4 separate regions of the Homo sapiens genome follow, and regions 1, 3 and 4 are each reported to be linked to region 2. The links are microRNA targets in miRTarBase. Many come from high-throughput screens and were not tested one by one. Region 2 holds a microRNA gene; each other region holds the end of a gene's coding sequence.

Region 1 (3,173 bases), not on the chromosome of region 2:
TACAGGTAACATCTATAATTCAGTAGGTGGCACTCTTCCCCCTTATACTTTTGAACTAACTGTGGTCAGATTTAGAAAGGGCTGTGCCGAGAGAGAGACAGAGAGAGCGCTTTGGTATCACAGGTGTCTTGAGTTTTTCTAATCCTATCAGCAGCTTTAATTATTCAGCACCACAATTTTACATCCATTTCCACAGTCAGGGTTACATTTCACTCTCCGAAGTCTCCTGCTCTTTGCAGTCAAAACAGAAACATGAGTATTCATCCTCATGAAAACATGAACATCCAAGCTCTGTCTTAGCATCGGTTTCTGTTTCATTTTAGGACAAGAGATGGCCACGTCCAGTTCTGGACAGCTCCTAGGGTCCTGTCCTCACTGAAGCACTTATGCCGGAAAGCCCTTCGAAGTTTCCTAACAACTTACCAAGTCCTAGCACTGCCAATCCCCAAGAAAATGAAAGAGTTCCTCACATACAGGACTTTTTAAGCAACACCACATCTTGTGCTTCTTTGTAGCAGGGTAAATCGTCCTGTCAAAGGGAGTTGCTGGAATAATGGGCCAAACATCTGGTCTTGCATTGAAATAGCATTTCTTTGGGATTGTGAATAGAATGTAGCAAAACCAGATTCCAGTGTACTAGTCATGGATCTTTCTCTCCCTGGCATGTGAAAGTCAGTCTTAGAGGAAGAGATTCCACTTGCACGGCAACAGAGCCTTACGTTAAATTTTCAGTCCAGTTATGAACAGCAAGTGTTGAACTCTTTCTGCTTGTTTTGATTCAAAGTGCAGTTACTGATGTTGTTTTGATTATGCAACTAAGTAGGCCTCCAGAGCCTCTCTAGTGGCAGAGCAGCTCACACTCCCTCCGCTGGGAACGATGGCTTCTGCCTAGTACCTATCCTTGTGTTTCTGATGCAGTGGTAGCATTGGTTCAAGTTCTCTCCTGCTGTGGTCAGAGTTGCTTCGATGTTGGCCAAGTGCTTTTCTTCTTGGGCTCCCTTCTGACCTGCAGGACAGTTTTCCTGGAGCCATTTGGTATGAGGTATTAATTTAGCTTAACTAAATTACAGGGGACTCAGAGGCCGTGCTCCTGACCGATCCAGACACTATTACTGGCTTTTTTTTTTTTTTTTTAACAATGGTGTGCATGTGCAGGAAATGACAAATTTGTATGTCAGATTATACAAGGATGTATTCTTAAACCGCATGACTATTCAGATGGCTACTGAGTTATCAGTGGCCATTTATTAGCATCATATTTATTTGTATTTTCTCAACAGATGTTAAGGTACAACTGTGTTTTTCTCGATTATCTAAAAACCATAGTACTTAAATTGAACAGTTGCAAAGATGTCTTAATTGTGTAAAGAATTGGTGTAGTCATGACTTTAGCTGATACTCTTATGTACGAGATCTGTCTCTGCTGTTTAACTTCATTGGATTAATCAGCTGGTTTCAACTCTACTGCGAAACAAAAATAGCTCCTTAAAAGTACTGTTCTCCTTCAGTGGCATGTAGTTATCTAATCAAGACACCTCATTCAAACAAAACCTGCCTTAGGAAAATTTAATATATTTTAAATTATTTTAAAAGAAATACAACATCTTATTCTTTAGCTTTCTTAATCGGTGCTTTATGGAGGCCAGTGTAACGTTACATGACTCGTTGAGAAAGTTGAGGAATTTCCTCTACCACCTTTGTTGCTTGAAGAAAAACATGTCTTTTCAAAATGAGAGGCTTTCATTGAAGAAAAGAAAAAAACAACAGTTAAAAGCTTTTGGCTCTCTGTTTCATTTTTTTCCATTAAGAAAAAAAAAAGTCCCCTTTTAAAACAAGCAGGGCTGGGTGTGACGGCACATGCCTGTAATCCCAGCACTTTGGGAGGCTGAGGTGGGAGGACTGCTTGAGCCCAGGAGTTCAAGATCAGCCTGGGCAACAGAGTGAGATAAGACCCAATCTTTATTTAAAAAATAAATAAATAAATAGCCAAAAAAACTTAGTGTGGTGCTGGTGTGCATGGTAGCCCCAGCTACTCAGGGGGCTGAGGATGTGGTGGCATTTACCTGTGGTTCTGTGGTTCCGGCTACTCAGGAGGCTGAGGTGGGAGAACTGCTCGAGCCTGGGACATGGAGGCTGTAGCGAGCCACGATCGTGTCACGGTATTCCAGCCTGGGTGACTGACAGAGCATGATCTTGCCTCAAAAAATAAACACATAAAACAAGTAGTACAGCAGAAGAGCTGGGAATGGATTGGCCAACGTTTACATTTCATGGTTATCTTGAAGTTCCAGGTACAGCAGATGCTGAGCCTCTGGGTGGTTTGAGGCCTGGTTGGCCATCAGATATTTAGCTTCATACTTTGCCGCTGTCCTTAAGGGGGTGAGTCCTCCATGAACAAAGGGAATAGTGACTTTTTCCATTTGACAGTTTAAGAATTTGACATTTTATAAAGAACAGCATCTAAAGAAAGTTTATTCTGTGATATTAGAGACAGAAGGTTTTCATATAAATGCAAGTTTGACAAAGTCAGCATCTTTCTAGCTGTCTAAGGAAGAGTCACTTGTAACACAGCCAGCCAGGAGGCTGCTTTGTTTTTTATTATAAAGAACACTAACACAAATGCAGCATGATTGCTGTAAAATAAATGTGAAATTTGTACAAAAGTCCCAGTCCTTCCGCAGTTCTAGGTTTACAGTCAGGCTCAACCTTACTTGCCCCGCTCCTGCATGAAAACAAGTGCGTTTTATACAGCCTCTGCCACCCAGTGGCATAGTTTAAGGCTCTATATTATATTTAAAATTAAGGTTTTTTTCCTATCATACACATCAATTTGGAACCTGCTGGTGACTCTTCTACCACAGAGGGTAAATAAAAAGACCAGTTTTTAAAGTAAGAGGATTCAGCTCATCTTATAAAAGTATAATAGTTTCGGCCAGACGTCCATTAACATCTGTTTAAATTAGATACAGACACAATGCCAAATATTAGAATCATAAATGTAATTTTGGAGATAATGTTTACCTTGAGTAGGAAGACACTTGGACCATATTAAATTTGAAAGTCTTCTGTTCCAGACCAAAATGGGGTAGGCTAATTCCCTGTCATCCAAGCAACTAAAAGGTAAAAACCTTATAACTTTAAAATAAAAAAGGTTATTTTTTTCCCCTATAAAA
Region 2 (3,173 bases):
TTTGCCATCCTGTTGTTAATTTGTCCCCGTTTTCCAGATGAGGCTTGGTGAGATTCACTGAGATCATGCATACAAAGAAAGCCCTGAGCACAGTGCTTGGCACATAGTGGGCACTCAGTAAACCTCGGTGTCACTGAGAAGACAGAATGAGAATGAGCATGCTGTGGAGTCTTTCACCTGCCTCTCCTCTGGGACAGGTTACTCTTTCATTCTGTAGACTGTAATGACATGGAAATTCCAAGATACCAAGAGACAATGATGAATCAAAGATGAGTTCCCAAAAGACAAATCACATCCCTTATTCCCCATCAAATCTAAAGCCTAATAAAGTCCATATAGCACTCATGAGGCCTCTAACCTTCTGCCTAAAAGTGATCATCATCACAGCAAACCTGAGCCTCAGAAAGGACCTAGCTTACTTGGTGACAGAGGAGGGCAACAGAAGGACTTGGCCCATGGCACCCAGCTGACCATGTCAGCAAATAGAGAGGCCTTCAAAGCCTTTGCATTCCTGTTCCCTGGAGAAACTGAGGATTGCAGTAAAGTGTAATTACAACCTCTTTTTGCCTTGTTTGAAATACAAAGGGACAATGTAGCCCTAATATATTTATAGAAGGAAGTAGAGATCAAATAAAGGAAGAGGGGGACCAAAAGAAGGGCATATCCATGTTTCTCATCTTCTTTCACTGCAGATCTTAAAAAGGAACCAGAAGCCTCAGCAGTCCCTGCTAAAGAATCATTGTCACATTCTATTAGTTCCCTCTGATCCCGTGAAGAGGGGGGAAAAATCATTGCATGGCAATGCCATGTGTCTCAAGCTTCATTAAAGTGATTTCTCCCAAGAGTCTCGTATAACAGCATGTAAAGCACTTACAACAGTACCTGAATCATCGTAAGTAATCAATAAATGTAAACGAGTAGCAGCAGCAGCAAGAGAGACTTGCTGAGATCATTCATTTAGCTACTTGGAACCCTGCTTAGCATAGAATTCAAGTCTTTTCACAATCAAATGAGTGTTTCTCACAGGAACTCACACTCCTTATACCTTCAGAGCCTGAGACTCTGCCTTCTGTCTCCAGTCTTCCAAGCTCTTCAGCAGACTGAAAAAGTTCTTCAGGATCTACTCTCTCCAGGTCCTCAAGCCCACGATGACAGAGATATCCCAGCTGAAGAACTGAATTTCAGAGGTCTGACACTGACACAACCCATGGAATTCAGTTCTCAAAGCTGAGGATACACATCGGCTTTTCAGAGATGGTGCAAAGACCCCTCCTTGCAGTCCAGGCCTGTCCCAGCCCTGTAAAATACAAGAGTGAAAAGCCTGGTAAATCCAATGCAGCTGCTTCCTAGTACCAGGTCTAGTCCTGGCACTCATGAGTTATAAACATCTGGAGGAGACCAGGCCAGCAGTCTGGAAGGCTGATGTGGGTGGATCTCTTGAGCCCAGGAGTTCAGGACTAGCCTGGGCAACATGGAGAATTTGTCTCTACTAAAAATAAAAAATGAGCCATGCATGATGGCCTGTGGTGGGAGGATCGCTTGAGCCTGGGAATTGGAGGTTGCAGTGAGCTATGATTGCACCACTGCACTCCAGTCTGGGCCACAGAGAGAGACCCTGTCAAAACAAAAACTAATCTGTAGGGGATGTGTATGGTAGACACACACATCATTAAGCATCATTAAACATGGTAGCTGGCCTTTCCTGCCTCATGACCCTTCCATATGCCATCCCTCTGGCCTGGAAAACTCGTTCCTCTCTTTAACATCAACTTATCCTGATGTTCTTGCTTTCAATGTCACTTCCTCAGAGAGGCCATCTATGGCAGAGATTGCTGATTGTTTGCCCAATATATATTCTCTCCTCCTTCTATACTAATAGAACCCTTAAGTGGTATCTGAACACATGGACATCTGACTTTGTTTCCTCACCTGGTGTGACAAAGTGCTGGATATGAGCAGGAGTGGAGAGTTTTTTACTGTTTCCCTCCCTCTTCTCAGGCTTGGACTGTAGACATGGTAGAGAGCCACTGTGGACCATGCAAATGAGTGCAGCCCCCCAGGGAACAGCAGAGCAGCATGCCAGAAGAGCCCCAAAAGTGTGAGGCTTCCTTATACACCCTAGACTGCTTACACCTGCACTGATAGATCAGCAAGAATGGAACATTTACCTTATTTAAGCCACTGTTACTTGGGGATCTCTGTAAGAGCACTTGAATGTTTACCTACCACTCCCTCACCATCAGCCTCCAGCTAGTCTCTTTCATAATATGGGATTCTTTCCTTCACCGTAATTTGTAATTGTTAGATAATTTTGTATAATTATTTGATTAAAATTATCTCTCCAACAAGACTGTTTTCCATAAGCATAGAGACCATGCTAGTGTTTTTTAAATATGTATATAGGCGAGATGTGGTGACTCACACCTGTAATCTCGGAACTTTGGGAGGCTGAGGCAGGCAGATCACCTGAGGTCAGGAGTTCAAGTTTCACTTGGCTAACATGGTGAAACCCCGTCTCTAACAAAAATACAAAAATTCGCCAGGCATGGTGGCGCACACCTGTAGTCCCAGCTACTTGGGAGGCTGAGGCAGAAGAATCACTTGAACCCAGGAGGCAGAGGTTGCAGTGAGCTAAGATTGCACAACTGCACTCCAGGCTGGGTGACAAAGCGAGACTCTGTCTCTAAAAAATAATAATAAAATAAAATAAGTATATAATAGCCTTATTGAGCTATAGCTATATAGCTCACACACCAGAAAATTTACCTATTTAAAGTAAAAAATGCATTGGTTTTTAGTATTTTGCAGAGTTGTACAACCATCATAATCAATTCCAGAACATTTTCATCATCCCCAAAATAGATCCCATAACCATTAACAGTCAATCTCCATTCCCCTCCCTCACCCCTGGGGAATCACTGATCTACGTTCTGTCTATATATATGCTGGACATCTTATATAAATGAAATCATATAATCAGCGGCCTTTTGTGACTGGCTTCTTTCACTTAGCTTTCAGGATATATCCATGTTTTAATGCGTATCAGTACATCCTTCCTATGGATGAATAATATTCCATCGTTAGGATCTACCACATTTCATTTATCCATTCATCAGCTGATGGGCATTTGGGTTGTTGCTACCTTTTGCCTATTTGATGCTTCTATGAATGAA
Region 3 (3,000 bases), not on the chromosome of region 2:
GCTGTAACATCGTGAAATACCCAGCCGGTGATACACTTCCCTGGGGCCATGTCTAACAACTGTGTTACCCCTGGGTGGGTTATCTAATCTCTTACACACTTACTTTCTTCATTTTAAAATGGAGAGGATATAGGATAATTGACTGTTAATGAGATAATGTACTTAAAGAGCTTAGCTTAGGGTCTGTCTGGCACATGGTAAATGCCCCCCTACCTGGCGGCATCAGATCATTTGTGATGTTACACACATTTTCCGTTCACCGGGCTTTTGTACGAATTAATCCTTACTTTGTAAATGTCCTGTTCATATTCTCTGGCCCTTTTTGTAGTGGGCAATAAGGATACCAACATTGTATTATCCCTTTTTTACAGAGGAAGAAACTGGGGCACAGGGTTTTTGACTTGCAAGAGGGATTTAGCTAGCATACTCCCTCAGCAAGTGGTTGAGTTGTGACTGGAGTCCAGGGGCCCGACGCCAGGGCCACCTCTCTGAAATCCCTATGACCGCAGTCCCCTCTTGCGAGCACATAGTAAACAGGGCCTGCTGATCCCCACTCACCACCCTTGGACAGACTGCGACAGTCTCAGAAGCCCAAGAGTTAGGAACACATTCGAAAATGGCACTATCTCCACCTTCTCAGCAGCCGAAAAAGAAGAAAGATATCCTTGGCCTTAAGTTGGAGAGCCCCGAGAAGGTAATGTGTGCACCCCGGGATGCCCGCCCACCTGTAAGTCTCCATTCTGGCCGCCTAGGTAGGTTGCGGCAGCCTGAACGGGGCTCTGTGAGCTTCGGGCTGGACAGCGGTTCCTCAGCAGCCACTAGAGGGCGCAATGGCGCCGTAGGCAGGCACCGAAGTCCTTGTTTGCCGAGCTCAGGCGTGACCTTGTTTGTCCTGTGTCTCAAGAGAGGAAATGTTCATCTCTTTCTCAAGGTCCTTCACCCAGTGAGCTGCTTTCTTTTCCTCTTGATGTCATCCTTTTACACAGGCAGGAAATTATGTTCACTTCTACTATCCTGTGGTCATTTAAAACCACAAACAAAGCTGATTGACCAGGAAGTCAGATAATTAAAAGAGCCATAAGTTCTTGATAAAGCCTTGTTGATTGAAGAAAGCAAAGTAGCCAAAGTATCGTGATTGACAGGGGGACCAGCAGCCTGAGAGGCTGAGCTCTCCAGATTGCAGTGGAAAGGCATAAGTTGGTTATTAAAACAAGTTGGCGAGCTGTGACCAGCATTTTGAAAAATTGAGCTAGACTTGAACAAAATAGAACAAATAACATAGAACAGAGCTTTTTCCATTCCGTGTGTGCATACTGAGTTGCTTACTAAATTATGTTTCTCACTGTACTTCAAAGTTTTAAAAATATGAAAGCCTTGACCGGGCTCGGTGGCTCATGCTTGTAATCCCAGCCTCGGTGACAAAAGCGAAACTCTGTCTCAAAAAAAAAAAAAAAAAAAAAAAAAAAGGAGGAGAAGAAGAAATTTGGAGAAATGAGGCCATCAGAGAGGATGAGAGGACGAAAATATTCATCAGGACATAAAGCTTTGGTGGCTGTCAGACTGAGAAACAGTCCATCTACTAAGTGTGGGGAAAAAAAGCTATTGTGCATGACCCTCATGTTTCTCTATAGCCTCAATCACAGGTTGGGTTTTGCCCAACTTTTCAGTGGACCACACCACGAAGGTAGTGGATTTAAGGTGAAAAATATTTGAATGTTGACAAGCTAATTGTCAGATGATTTTAGCAGAAATCAGTTTTCATTATTTAAACTGATAAGAAAATGTTTGTGATTTTGACAGGCATGGTAAACAAACAAAATTGTGATTTATGTTGCTCAAATGAGAATAAAATTTATTTCACAAATTACTGATATTTTTAACATTTACAGTTTAATTGTTCATTGTGGAAAAACAGAGAAAAGGGCATACGCTGTCCAAGCACAGGCTTCCATGTGGGCTCAGCCCACCATGACATGGGGATGAATCCCAACTCTCACCCACCATGACAGGTGATCCCCCCAGCTCTCACCCACCATGACAGGTGATCCCCCAAGATCTCACCCACCATGACATGGTGATTCCCCCAGCTCTCATCCACCATGACGTGGGGATACCCCCCAGATCTCGCCCACCATGACATGGGGATGCTCCCAGCTCTCACCCACCATGATGTAGGGATACCCCCAGCTCTCACCCACTATGACCATGTGGATGACCACCCGCCCTCACCCACCATGACACAGGGATACCCCCAGATCTCACCCACCATGACATGGGGATGCTCCGAGCTCTCACCCACCATGACTTGGGGATGCCTCCCCCGACCAGCCCTCACCCTCCATGACCATGGGGATAACCCCCAGCTCTCACCCTCCATGACCACGGGGATGGCCCCAGCTCTCACCCACCATGACATGGGGATGGCCCCAGTTCTTATCCCATCCTCCTCTTCTCTACGCCTGAGCTCAACTGGGTGTCTAGAATGCTAACCCTAGCCTCATCCTGCAGCAGAAAATAGGTGTAGGAATGAGGAGACATGGAGCAAAACAAGTCATCTTCCAGCCATAGGTGTCAGTCCAGCAAGTCTTAGCCAGTCGTGAGAGTACACTTCTTTCTTCTTGAGCCTAGTTCTGGGCCTGAAATCAGGAAAGATCTATTTACTCCTTTTCTGATGTGGTGGGAGATGGGGGCTGATAAGGAAACCTGCCATGGGAATGCGAAAACCTCCACCTTGCCGTCAGTTCATCTGGTGGTATATCCCTGAGGCTTCCATTTCTCTTGGGTTATCTTTGCAAGGTGGTTATGCCAGAGGATCACAGGTGAGCAGTGTCAACTCTCACCTTTCCTATAAGAGCCCCAGAGGAAAGGTGAATTTGGATGACAAGAGCCAGGGCTCTGAGGTCCTTCTCAAGTGGAGAGCTCCTCTCCAGGGACAGCCTGGGAGATGAGGGTGGAATTGTATTAGTGAACAGCAGCATTTCTCAGAAGTTCCTGGGTGTA
Region 4 (3,173 bases), not on the chromosome of region 2:
TAGTTTCAACGTTAGGGAAAGTTCAGAATACTGTCTGTCTAAACTATCTCTCTAGAAGGCCTGATGGGCCACAACCTGGGCCAGAAGCATTCAGTTCAGATATGAGAATGGTGGGTGTAGGGGCAATGGCCAATGGGCCATGGCCGGAAGGAAATTGTTACAGAGTAGTGGGAAGCCTGCAAAGACTGGCTTCTGTCCGTTTTGCCTTGGTTTGCCCATGTGGATATTCTTTGCCAATATTTTCTGCCCAAGAGCTGTGCTTGCTAGAGTTGGAAACTGGATGAAAAGGTGAAGACTTTTTTTCTTCTCAACAGCTCACAAAGAAAGTGAACAACATAGAGACGGGCTGGGCCTTGGGGGCCACCTTTCACCTGTTGCAGTCTCTGGGCATCTCCCATTGAGGCCACGTACTTCCTTGGAGACCTGCATTTGCCAACACCTTTTTAAGGGGAGGAGAGAGCACTTAGTTTCTGAACTAGTCTGGGGACATCCTGGACTTGAGCCTAGAGATTTAGGTTTAATTAATTTTACACATCTAATGTGAACTGCTGCCTAACCACTCAAGAGTACACAGCTGGCACCAGAGCATCACAGAGAGCCCTGTGAGCCAAAAAGTATAGTTTTGGAACTTAACCTTGGAGTGAGAGCCCAGGGACAGGTCCCTGGAAACCAAAGAAAAATCGCATTTCAACCCTTTGAGTGCCTCATTCCACTGAATATTTAAATTTTCCTCTTAAATGGTAAACTGACTTATTGCAATCCCAAGACCCATCAATATCAGTATTTTTTTCCTCCCTATACAGTGCCCTGCCCACCCTTATCTGCACCCACCTCCCCTGAAAAAGAGAGAAAAAAAAAAACCTGGTTTTGCTTTCCATGTATAATTCAACAACGCAAAATGGGACCATGTCAGAATCTGTATGATCCTATTCTGTGTTAGCTCCAATCAGCCAGCTGAGAGCCATCCTAAATATTAATAGGATGAGAGAGTAACTCCTAACTGTGCATAAATTACAGCCTTAAGAAAGAAGGCCACCCGGTCTCTGGGGACATGTTTTGGGAGGGTGTGGCTGCCTCATATAGCCTACCTTTGCTTTAATCAGCATTTTATCAGTCAACTCTGGGATTAATGAACATATCCGACTTTATGGGTATGTGTATATTCAGTGCCAGTACCACCTCCCAGGCTAATGTGTTAACAGTGTTTTCTATGATTCTAAACTTGTTTTCTTTGTATTTCTAAGAAATACAACTAGGCCCTAACTTTTGGTCTGTGGTCAGAGGTCAGTGTCTGTGCTATTCCAGGATCTATTATTTCAGTTTGCCCTTTTATTCTCTCCGTTTGTAACAGTACCTTCCTGTCCTGGTCCCTGATCACTTTAGCTAATATCCTTTGAATTATTTATCTAGTTCAGAGTTTCCAATACCGTTCCTGACAAAACCCCACTTGGATTTGGTTGGCTCTCTCAGCCCACATCAGTACAGTGGACCAACATTTCCAGGGAGAACCATATTTAATGTCCCTCATGCTCTCTTTTTGAATCCAAGTGCTCAGAGCTCTTGACTGTGAATTATTTACCCCAAATTCATTATCTTGCACTTTTTTTTGAGATGGAGTCTTGCTCTGTTGCTCAGGCTAGAGTGGAGTGGCGCAATCTCAGCTCACTGCAACCTCCGCCCCCAGGTTCAAGCGATTCTTGTTCTCAGCCTCCTGAAGAGCTGGGATTACAGGTGCCCACCACCATTCCTGGCTAATTTTTGTATTTGTAGTAGAGATGGGGTTTCACCATGTTGGCCAGGCTGGTTTCCAACTCCTGATCTCAATTGATCCACCCGCTTCCCAAAGTGCTGGGATTACAGGCATGAGACACCGCGCCTGGCCTTATCTTGCACTTTCAACATAATCATCCCTGCTTCTCATCTGCCCTGCAGTGCTCTTGGACCTGGAAGATCTCCCTGTGGTCTGGCCCCTTTGCCTTGGTTGTTAACCTCCAGCTTCTTTGCAGGAGTGTATTTCCCCAAAACTTGTGGCTTTCACAGTAGACTCCGTTTCCATCCTCTCTCTCACAAAGGATGTTAAGTATGCCTGGCCCTCACACAGTCCATGGGAAACCTTATTTTTAACATTACTCCATTGAGTCAATAAATATTTACCATCTGCTGTGTGCAAGTTACTAGGCAAATTTCTGTATCCTTGTCCCTAAAATTCTTGTCTTTAAATTCATTGTGGAATTTCTTTAGACTTCACACTGACTTTTATTACTAAGGTCACCTTTATACCAACTGCCTTCCTCAAAATGCTTATAATGAAATAACAGAATCTTGAGTTGGAAACAGCCCAAAGAAATAATCCAATGTTGTACTCAGTGCAGAATTCCCTAGAATTTCTAACAGGTTGTCATTCAGCTTCTGCTAAGCCATGTTCAAACAGCTTATTCCATTTGGAACTGCACTGATATTAAAAAAAATTCCTTATATTGAGCTGAAATCTACCTATCTTCTAAGTGGTCTTAGTTCTGCTCTAATCTCTCCTTCCAAAATCTTTGGATCTTTTGAAAAAAGTTCCTCCCAAGTTCTTTTATAAGTGACATGACTTTTAGACCCCTTCCCATCTTTGTCAACAAAAGTAGGGTGCCAGACCAGTCACAGAACACTAAATGTCATCCATGTTTCCTTCAGTAGAAACCAGCAGTTTTAAAAGAGGTAAGCTGTGTTCACTAAAGACTGTTCCAGCTTGACAAATGCAGAGATATAAGTCTCTGGTCTTTAATCACTGTGGGGGCCATTTTGTAAAACACACATACTGTCCAGCAGACTCCTTTGGTCATCCCAAATACCTCTGAACTCCAGGGAAGATGCATTCTAACTCCACGAACTTACCTATTTTGTTAACCTTGATTAGACCTTCTGGAGAAGTAACCAATTTGTCCATCTTAGGAGCAATTTGGAATGAGAGTTTTTATTTTTTTCTGTAACGCCCATCCTGCCTGCAGTAGACCCTTTGGGCTTAAGAGGTCCTACAGATTCTAATAGTTTCCTCTTTGTAGATGTGTTAACATATTTAAAATACTTAGGACATGGCCTGGTACGTGACAGATGGTGTTTAACATCATTGTCATATGAAGAACACTCTCTGTGGGCCAATGGAGGTGTGCCTTAAAATTCTTCATCTT

The links. Region 2 holds the annotated microRNA hsa-miR-146a-5p (UGAGAACUGAAUUCCAUGGGUU, at 1,203-1,224, opposite strand). A microRNA usually pairs through its seed, bases 2 to 8, with sites in the 3' UTR of a target mRNA and lowers its output. Matches are read on the target gene's strand: a 7mer-m8 pairs with bases 2 to 8, a 7mer-A1 pairs with bases 2 to 7 and ends in A, and an 8mer does both.
Region 1: miRTarBase lists WSB2 as a target of hsa-miR-146a-5p. Seed matches in the 3' UTR shown: 7mer-m8 at 935-941.
Region 3: miRTarBase lists IL1RL2 as a target of hsa-miR-146a-5p. The part of its 3' UTR that is shown has no 7-base or 8-base seed match.
Region 4: miRTarBase lists ENTPD5 as a target of hsa-miR-146a-5p. Seed matches in the 3' UTR shown: 7mer-A1 at 1,700-1,706.

Annotation. Positions count from the first base shown.
Region 1 is chr12:118,031,509-118,034,681 of GRCh38, reverse strand. It overlaps WSB2 (WD repeat and SOCS box containing 2), which reads left to right. Exons shown (of 9, transcript NM_018639.5): 9 at 324-1,995. The coding sequence ends at 486. RFC5 (replication factor C subunit 5) reads right to left here. Exons shown (of 11, transcript NM_007370.7): 11 at 2,448-3,173. Among named protein-coding and RNA genes, the nearest start is that of RFC5, 16 kb to the right of the region's middle.
Region 2 is chr5:160,483,423-160,486,595 of GRCh38, reverse strand. It overlaps MIR146A (microRNA 146a), which reads right to left and starts at 1,244; the gene lies at 1,146-1,244. It overlaps MIR3142HG (MIR3142 host gene), which reads right to left. Exons shown (of 2, transcript NR_132748.1): 2 at 1-1,297.
Region 3 is chr2:102,238,828-102,241,827 of GRCh38, reverse strand. IL1RL2 (interleukin 1 receptor like 2) reads right to left here. Exons shown (of 12, transcript NM_003854.4): 12 at 1,826-2,636. The coding sequence ends at 2,587. Among named protein-coding and RNA genes, the nearest start is that of IL1RL2, 53 kb to the right of the region's middle. RefSeq lists a silencer at 766-825 and enhancers at 765-1,059, 2,914-3,000.
Region 4 is chr14:73,964,156-73,967,328 of GRCh38, reverse strand. It overlaps ENTPD5 (ectonucleoside triphosphate diphosphohydrolase 5 (inactive)), which reads left to right. Exons shown (of 16, transcript NM_001249.5): 16 at 315-3,173. The coding sequence ends at 401. Among named protein-coding and RNA genes, the nearest start is that of COQ6, 15 kb to the right of the region's middle.